Linked DNA regions of Homo sapiens: all the other regions are linked to region 2. The links come from fine-mapping of genetic effects on gene expression. A gene starts in region 2. Each other region holds a variant in brackets. All regions are shown on one strand. Distances are from middle to middle. Region 1 overlaps TRPV3 (transient receptor potential cation channel subfamily V member 3). Region 2 holds the start of TRPV3 (transient receptor potential cation channel subfamily V member 3). Region 3 overlaps TRPV3 (transient receptor potential cation channel subfamily V member 3).

Region 1 (2,765 bases), 24 kb before region 2:
TGGAACTCCCGTCCTCGTGAGAGGCAGAAGGCCCCAAGGGCCACCCACTGCTGGGGCTATTGTGTCACCTCAGCCTCAGGCTCCCCCAGCCTAGCCCTCCCAGGACAAGAGATGGAAACGCGGCGTATTAGGGACTGAAGTCTAGAGAGTGGGCTGCATCGCACCAGCTCCGCGTGGCCCCTCAGAACAAACCTGCCTCCGGCCGCCACGCCACTGCAGTTCTGGACCCAAGGCTGGGACCTTCTCAAGGCTGAGGCTGTGGTTTGTGAATCCCCAGTAAGGCCCCCGGGGCTGAGAGGGTGGCAGCTGTACCTCCTGACCTCCCGACCTCCTGCCTCCCCACGCCCCATGGCCCCACCTCCGCCTTGCCCATCTTGGCGGCCAGCTGCAGCGGCGTGAGGCCATCGTTGTTGCGAGTGGTCTCCAGCTCCCAGTTGCCACTCCGCAGTAGGATCATGTCGTACATGCGCTTCACAAAGTCATTCTGCGTCTTGAAGTCCTCGGCCACGGTCACCAGGGCGTGAAGGATGTTGTTGCCTCGTGAGTCCCGCGAGGTGATGTCCGTCTGCTCGTGCTCCATCAGCAGCTGCACAATCTCGGGCTGGTTGGTGCATGCTGCCAGGGCCAGGGGCGTCTCACCTGGGGGATGAGCGCACTGAAGCTTGGTTCTCTCATGGGCCGGAAGCAGCGTCCCCCAAGCCCCAGGACTGGGGCCCATATCCTATCTCAGCAGGATGGGCACCTCAGGTTCCCTAGCCCTCTCCCCATCTTCCGCTTCTACGGGGAAGAGTGAAGCTAGATCACTGCGGTAGCCTCCTAACTGGCCTCCCTGCCTCCACCCTGGCCCTTTAATACTCTGCTCAGCACAGCAGCCAGACCAACCTGTTAGTGCCTCCCCCAGAATGAAAGCACAGGTTCCAATGACAGCCCACAAAGCCCTGCATACTCTGACCTCCTCTCTCCATCACTCACTCCCTCCTGCTACAACGGCCTTTTTCCACCTCCTCCAACACGCCGCCTGGGGGCCTTCGCTCGGCTGTCCCCTCTGCCTGTAGATAGCCCAGTCACTTTCTCCCTCACCTCCTTCAAGTCCTTGCTCAAATGTCACCTTTCAGTGAGCCACCCTAACCACTCTATTTAAAATTAAAATCCACCCTCCTCTTGTCCCAGACAGAACTCTTGGTTCCTTGTCCTCTGCTTTACTTTTTTTTTTTTTTTTGAGA[T/C]GGAGTCCTACTCTGTCGCCAGGCTGGAGTGCAGTGGTGCGATCTCGCCTCACTGCAACCTCTGCCTCCCGGGTTCAAGCTATTCTCCTGCCTCAGCCTCCTGAGTAGCTGGGACTACAGGCGCCCGCCACCACGCCCGGCTAATTTTTGTATTTTTAGTAGTGATGGGGTTTCCCCATGTTGGCCAGGATGGTCTTGAACTCCTGACCTCGTGATCCACCTGCCTTGGCCTCCCAAAGTGCTGGGATTACAGATGTGAGTCACTGCACTCGGTCTACTTTGTATTTTTTAAGAGCACTTATCATTTCATATCATAGTATATAAAATTCTTATTTATAGTGCTTATTACCGATGGTCTCTCCCTGTCTAGAATGTAAGTTCCATGAGGGCAAGGATCTCTATTTTGTTCACTGATACATTTCAAGTACCTAGAACAGTGCCTGATGTAGACAGTAAGTGCTCAATAAATGCTTGTTAAGAAAAAATAAGGCAAGTGACTCACATGAGGTCACACAGCAAGCCTGGGACACGACCAGCTCCGGACACCAGGTCTTCAGCTGCCTCCCCTCTCCTCGCCCCACCCAACAAATGCTTCCCAACACCAGGTCCAACCAGCTCCTATGCAGGGCAATGGGGACACACGATGAACTGGACAAGACCCCGTTTTCCAGGACACCCACACCTGGACACGCAGGGCTGCCCAGAGCACAGACTAGCTAGTCCTGCTGATTAAAAAACCACCCAGAAGATAGTCCCAGCTACTCAGGAGGCTGCAGCATGAGAATCGCTTGAACCCAGGAGGCAGAGGCTGCAGTGAGCCAGATGGCACCACTGCACTCCAGCAGCCTGGGCAACAGAGTGAGACTCCATTAAAAAAATAAAAATAAAAAAAATAACACCCAGAAGAGAAAACAGATGGGTGATCATCAGTCAGGCAAGACTGGGTGGCAGGAGGGGTCTCCTCTGCAACAAAGTTACACAGAGAAATTTTTGTGTGTGACGGAGCCATTTGTTCCCTGTTCTGACTGCAGTGGTGGTGAACCAACTCGACGCACTGTGAAAATGAACAGAACTGTCCTCTAACACGGGTGACTTTCACTATATCTAAATTATGCATTTCAATTTTTTTTTTTTTTCCTAGAGCATCCTAACCCCAATTGCTTCTGGACTCTGTGACTTGTGAGGCAGGGGAGTTCTGCCCTCTCACTCTCGACTCCCTGTCTGCAGTCCTGAGATGCACTGGGCCCTGGCACAGAGGTCAGAGCTGGAGGCCAGGACACCTAAGTCAATGCCCTGCTACCCTGGGGCAAGTCCTTTCCCTTCACAGAGCCATCTCCTCGCCTGTAAAATGGGGCTGCCTCCTCAGCCTCCCTCCCAGGTCTCTGTTCCCTCAGAGAGCTACCCAGGACAATGCTTCTAAGACCACCAGGTGACACCACCGGAACATGGACTCCTCCCCCAACACCTCCTCCCAGCCCCTCCTTCTCTGGTCCACCCTGGTGTCCTGCTCAGATGGACATGCCCAGCCTCCTCCCCTCCTGC
Region 2 (2,732 bases):
GCAACCTTGAGGCCAGGCAGGTGGAGTAGCCCACAGAGAGGGACTCCTGGGCACCCGGCCCTCCCGTGTCCAGTCACGGCCTGATGAGGATGGGCAGCCTCTATGGCTTTCCCCATCCCCACGTGGCCTTTGGTGGACTAAAAGGCTGGGATGCACCGAGCGTGAAGGAGACAGAAGAAGGGCACGTCTCTTGCCCCTCCCAGGGCCTCTGGTTTCCTTTCTGAGAAGTGGGCTGAATGGTCCCCAAGGACTCTGTGGCCCTGAGAGCTGGTTGCTCTCTCTCTTCTCTGGGCCCGAGAATGTGGCCTGCCCTGGGCCTCTGGGGCAGGAGAGGCTCAGGGAACTCTGGACTAGGGCCGCAGCAGCTATCATTAGCTCCCTGAGTCACCCCGTAAACCCCACGTTCTCACCTGCTGGACTCTCTTGTTGCCCTGGCCCTCCCTCTCTCTCCCAATCCCTGACACTGATTGAAATGGCCTTTCCCGGGCGACAGACCAGGCCGCGGAGCCACAGCTGCTGACTCAGCACCTGTGAGATGCCTGGGCCCCGTCTGTCTCCCACGGTGGGGCCACCTCCTCCCATCCTGAACTCCCATCACAATCCTGCCCCAGAAAGCCACCTCCCTGGGTCAGCCTCGGGAGGCAGGAGCCTCTCCTCTGCCCCCAGCAGTGGTGAGATTGAGATGTCCCTCCCCAGGATTCCCAAACCTCAGGGGAATGTTCCTGAGTCTGTAAGGACCTATATTCTCACACATCCCTACAGCCAAGAGTGCAGCCAAGAGTGCCTCCCTACAGCCAAGAGTGGGCCCCTGGCTGGGGCCCAAGCTCCTTCCAACCCTCCTCCCAAGGCCTATTGGCCAAGGGCAGACATGGCCCAGAGGACCTCTGAGGGCCACGCTCTGGGCTCCCCAGGGGCCTTGGAGATCACCAGCTGCCTTGTGCACAGAAGACTCACCTGGTGAGGTTCTGGGTGGTCGTGGCAACCCTTGCCCTGAGATCACCGCATGTCTGGGGCCCAAGGCCCCCGGGTGGGACTGTGGCTGAGGCGGCGGGAAGCTCTCATTGCAGGCAGAGGGATGGCTGGAATGAGGCGTCAGAGGCAGAACTGGCTGAGCCACCTGCCCTCGGCGCCAGGCAGGCCACGCCCACCAGCCACAGCTGCAGCACCCGCCCACCCACGTGGCCCGTGTGAGTCACCCCCACACCCACACAGCAGCCTCATCCCCACCGGAGAAAAGGCAGGGGAGGCCGCAGGTGCCAAGATCGAAGTTGTGGGTCCAACTCCTCCCTCTCTGGCATTCCATGCTGGGCAGGGACTGCCCATCTCAGGCCTATTTTTCCAACTAGGAAATGGGAATGATAACATCTACTTTCCAAGGGAGCCGTGAAGAGCCAAAGAGATCACAGAGGTGGGAGGGCCTAGTGAAGAGTCAAGCGCTCTGCTCTGTCCCCTGGGAGGGAAGACCGCAGCCCAGGCCTAGCCTGGTTGACCTCAGGGTGGCCAGCCCCAAGACTCGGCACTTGTTCTCAAAAGTCGGTTCCTGGGATCAGGTCTCTCGGGGACGGAAGTCCCCATTTAATGCTGTCCACCAGCAGTCACGCATCATGGCCCTTAGTGTCAGCCTCACCCCTTCCTGGCTGAATGACCTTAGCAGGTCATTTCTCCGAGCCTCAGTCTCCTCATCTGTGAAACGTGCTTCATAAACCCACTTTGCAAGGTTATCGTGGGGCTTCAACAAGTACAAGTAGAAAGGGCCAGAACAAGGCCCAGGGCACGGCAAGAACTCAATAAACAATGTCAGCTCTTAGCTATGATTGCTTTTGTCATCTCAATGTATTCTCCCAGCAACTGCCCAGGTTGCCCTTCTCCAAGGCCAGGGCGTCATAGAAGGAATCGGTGCCCTCTCTCCTGGCCCAGGCTGCAGCTGTGAAGTGGGTGGAGTGAGTCAGGATGGCCGTGTGTGTCTCGCGTCACTCAGGAACTGCACACCTGCTCCCCGGGGCGAGATGTGGACAAGACACAGCTGGGACAGAGCAGGAAGTCTCTGCTGACGCGGCCGCAGCTGGCGCCTGATGGGCAGGGAAATCCCCAGCTGTGAGCCTCTCAATCCCTCATCATCACAACCTGCCTGGCCTGGGGAGGAGGCAGGAGGCAGGTGAGGCTTCTAGGCCACGGGAGAGCAGGACCTATGGCCGGTAAGGGGCAGACCAGACTTGAGGGTGTGGGTGAAGCAGGAGACCGCTTCTGCCGTTGAAGTCAGGGGGTCCTGAAGTTCCCACTCACAATCTGAAATCTCATGACTGTGCCTGAAACTCGACCGGAAAAGCCCGATCTGGGGTTGAGCACGGCCTCCGGCCACTAGCTTACTCACCCTCTCCCGACCCAGCCCCGCGCCCTCCCTGTTTGCCTCTGGCGGCTCAGACGCCTGGGGAGGAAGCTGCTGCCAAATGTCAGTGCTTCCATTTTGCTCGTGTTCATAACTTTTCTCAGAGGGCAGGTGGGAGCTGGTGAAAAAGGCCCCTGTCTCCCACCCAGAGGTGTGCCCTGTGCCCAGCAAGGAAGAAGGGGACCCCCGCTCTGCTATGAGAGGCAGCAGGAGCCAGGTCACCCAGTGGAGTCACAGTCACTACTTAGGAAGCCCGAGCCCATCCTAATCCCACCCCAAACACACAGAAGCAGCAGCTTCAGCCCCTTAGATGGTCTATATTCAACCCCATTTAACCCAGCACATG
Region 3 (2,754 bases), 45 kb before region 2:
AAAACATGTGAGATGACAAACATCCCTATGGCTCTCCATTCCCCACTTGGACAAAAGCTGGCAGGTTAGGCAAATAGAAATCAATAATTGGCTTTATCCATTAACATCCGAGTCAAAGCAACTCTGGATACGGCTTTATCCATAACAGATACGGCTTTATCCATTAATGGATATGACTTTCTCCATTAATATCTGAGTCAAAGCAATTCTGGAATTCCCAGCTCCATAGTGTGGAGCTTGGCATCATGAATCCAAACCACTTCCTTTCAGACCAAGATGTCTGTTCAGGCTTAATGCGGGTAGCTAACTCCAGATGTGGAATGCTGATTTGTACAATCTCCAGGCTAAAAGGGACCTTAAACTTCTTCCAATGACCATTTTCAACAACATTCCTCATTAAGTGCGCAACCAGCTTCTGCTTAAACATCTCCAACATCTGGAGCAGTTGCTGGATTCTGTTGAGCCAAAATCTTTCTCAATTTCCTAATTCTGCCCATTCTGAAACACATCTGCTCCTCCTGCCTCTAGGACAGTTCTCCTCAAATCTTCTCTTCTCCAGAGGCCCATGCCCAGCCCCGACCACTGTGGCTTAGAGCACGCGATTACTCCCTGGGTCAGCTGGGAGGGCAGGGGCTGCTGTGGATTGTGAAGCCTCACACACCCCAGCCCACCTCTCCCCAATCGGCCCCATCAGGGGCACAAAGTCTCTATCTGTCCAGCTAGTCTGGCACACAGAGTGGCCCAGGGCAGAGAAACTGGCCCAGAGTGCACTGCTAGGCCCCGACTCTTCAGTTTGCCTCAAGCCAGATGAACTTATCTATCGCCATGTTATCTGAAGGCCAAATTTCTATTTCTGCCATTTAAGATTAACATTTATGGTTACTATTTTTATAATTCCACCTCGAACATTTTTACATGAATCCTTTCACCAGATAACGGCGGCAGAGTGGATTTTCTGGTGGTTTCGGCCCCAGTCACCTGGAAAATCCTTCCGTCTCCACTTCACCTCTGCCCCCCAGACTGACTCCGTGTCATTTCAGAAAGAGAACATCAGAGGACGAGGACCTAAAAATAAGCTCAAAGTCTTGGCAAATGCTTTTCTCTCACAAGCTTCCCCTTCAGCTTCAAAATTCACAGTTAAAATTAAAAAAAAAATACTTCGTACCAAAGCAGTTGAGGCATTTTGTTAAATTCCCCCACTGAGACATACTGAGGTATGCGACTAACTGCTGAGTTCCAAGATGATATCGATCGAGCAGCTGCTATTTCTGCTTCAGCGAAAGCCACGATCCCAGCACACAGGCACGCGCTACTGTGAGGTCAGGACGAGGAAAAGAGCCAGG[A/C]CCTTTCACCCAGATCGCGGCGGCCCAGCAGGACTTGCCCGGAGTGTCTCATGCAGACTTTTGTGTGTGTGAAGAAAAGCTTTTTGTCTTGCTCTGGGCACCCTGAGGCCAAATATATAATACTTACATCCAGCCCCAAAGCCCCCAGTCTGTCTCCACTTTTAAAATCACAAACTTCATTGTAGTAATTTTCATTCTCAACTGAAATGTCTTTTCCGTATTGCAAGTTAAAACCCTGTGTTAATTCTGCTACTAAAAACATCTCTCAGCTTGAGACAGTTTGAACCTTGGGGTGTCAGGGGACGTTCACTCCAAGGATGGTCTCCTTTTCCCCGAAGGGTTCCGGAAGGGTGTTTCCAGAGCGCATTCCCCTCCTCCCCCAGGATATCCAGCTTACCTCCGTCCCCCGCACACTCTGGGATGGGATCACGGGTCTCCCACAAATTCAGGCAACCCAGTCACAGCAGAAGAGATGGTACAATGTGTGGGCTGGGGTTGGGGCTGACGGGGGAAGCTGGCAGGAGGAAAGACTCCTCTCCCTGCTCCTCAAGACTGCTGCCCCTTTCCCGCCATCCATCTCTCCCAGCCAAGCCGACCTGCAATTGGTAAAACCAGAGGCTTCACCCGGGACTTCAGGAGGCTCCCAGGCTCCAGACTGCTGCTGGCTGTAGGTTTACACCAGCTGTTTGCCAAGTAACAAAATCCAGGATGTTTCCCACTCAGACAAATTGACAACTGCCCCTCAGTTCAGACACCCACTGAGCACTGAGCACGAGGGTGCACTCTGCTTCTAGGCCAGCAGAGCCGGACTCCACCATCCCTCAAAGCCTCTCTGCACAGAGTCGGTGACTCCGCCTGCAGCGCCAGACAGCGCACGCGCACACCAGCTCTGGGTTCCGCTTCTACACCGAGGTTTCCGGGAATTCCTCGACTTCTTCAAATGCATTGAGAGTGGTTTTGCTGTTGTTCCTGGAAGAATCTTGGATTTTGTTGAAATCTGCTTTTTAAAAAAATATATATTTTAGAAATATATCACTCTGCATAGTGTGTTTCTTTTTTCTTTTTCTTTTTTTTCTTTTTTGAGATGGAGTTTCCCTCTTGTCACCCAGGCTGCAGTGCAGTGGTGTGATCTCAGCTCACTGCAACCTCCACCTCCCAGGTTCAAGCAATTCTCCTGACTCAGCCTCTCGAGTAGCTGGGATTATAGGCACCTGCCACCACGTTCGGCTAATTTTTGTATCTTTAGTAGAGACAAGGTGTCACCATGTTGGCCAGGCTGGTCTCAAACTCCTGACCTCAGGTGATTCACCCGACTCGTCCTCCCAAAGTGCTGGGATTACAGGCACGAGCCACCGCGCCCGGCCTGCATGATGTGTTTCTATGGCTTAGGGCTACGCCATTTTAAAAGTTG

What was found. PIP is the estimated chance that this variant, and not a neighbour inherited with it, causes the effect.
Region 1: its variant is fine-mapped to the expression of TRPV3 in whole blood (TOPMed, PIP above 0.99).
Region 3: its variant is fine-mapped to the expression of TRPV3 in adrenal gland (GTEx, PIP above 0.99).

The regions. Positions count from the first base shown.
Region 1 is chr17:3,532,299-3,535,063 of GRCh38, forward strand. TRPV3 (transient receptor potential cation channel subfamily V member 3) reads right to left here. Exons shown (of 18, transcript NM_145068.4): 8 at 359-639. Among named protein-coding and RNA genes, the nearest start is that of TRPV3, 24 kb to the right of the region's middle. The variant T/C (reference allele first, on the strand shown) is at 1,224.
Region 2 is chr17:3,556,722-3,559,453 of GRCh38, forward strand. TRPV3 (transient receptor potential cation channel subfamily V member 3) reads right to left here and starts at 1,091. Exons shown (of 18, transcript NM_145068.4): 1 at 955-1,091. RefSeq lists a silencer at 50-109 and enhancers at 1,291-2,107, 1,750-1,809, 1,890-1,939, 1,970-2,199, 2,108-2,732 and 2 more.
Region 3 is chr17:3,511,672-3,514,425 of GRCh38, forward strand. TRPV3 (transient receptor potential cation channel subfamily V member 3) reads right to left here. Exons shown (of 18, transcript NM_145068.4): 18 at 1-2,340. The coding sequence ends at 2,246. It also overlaps a transcript of SPATA22 not described here. Among named protein-coding and RNA genes, the nearest start is that of ASPA, 37 kb to the left of the region's middle. The variant A/C (reference allele first, on the strand shown) is at 1,344.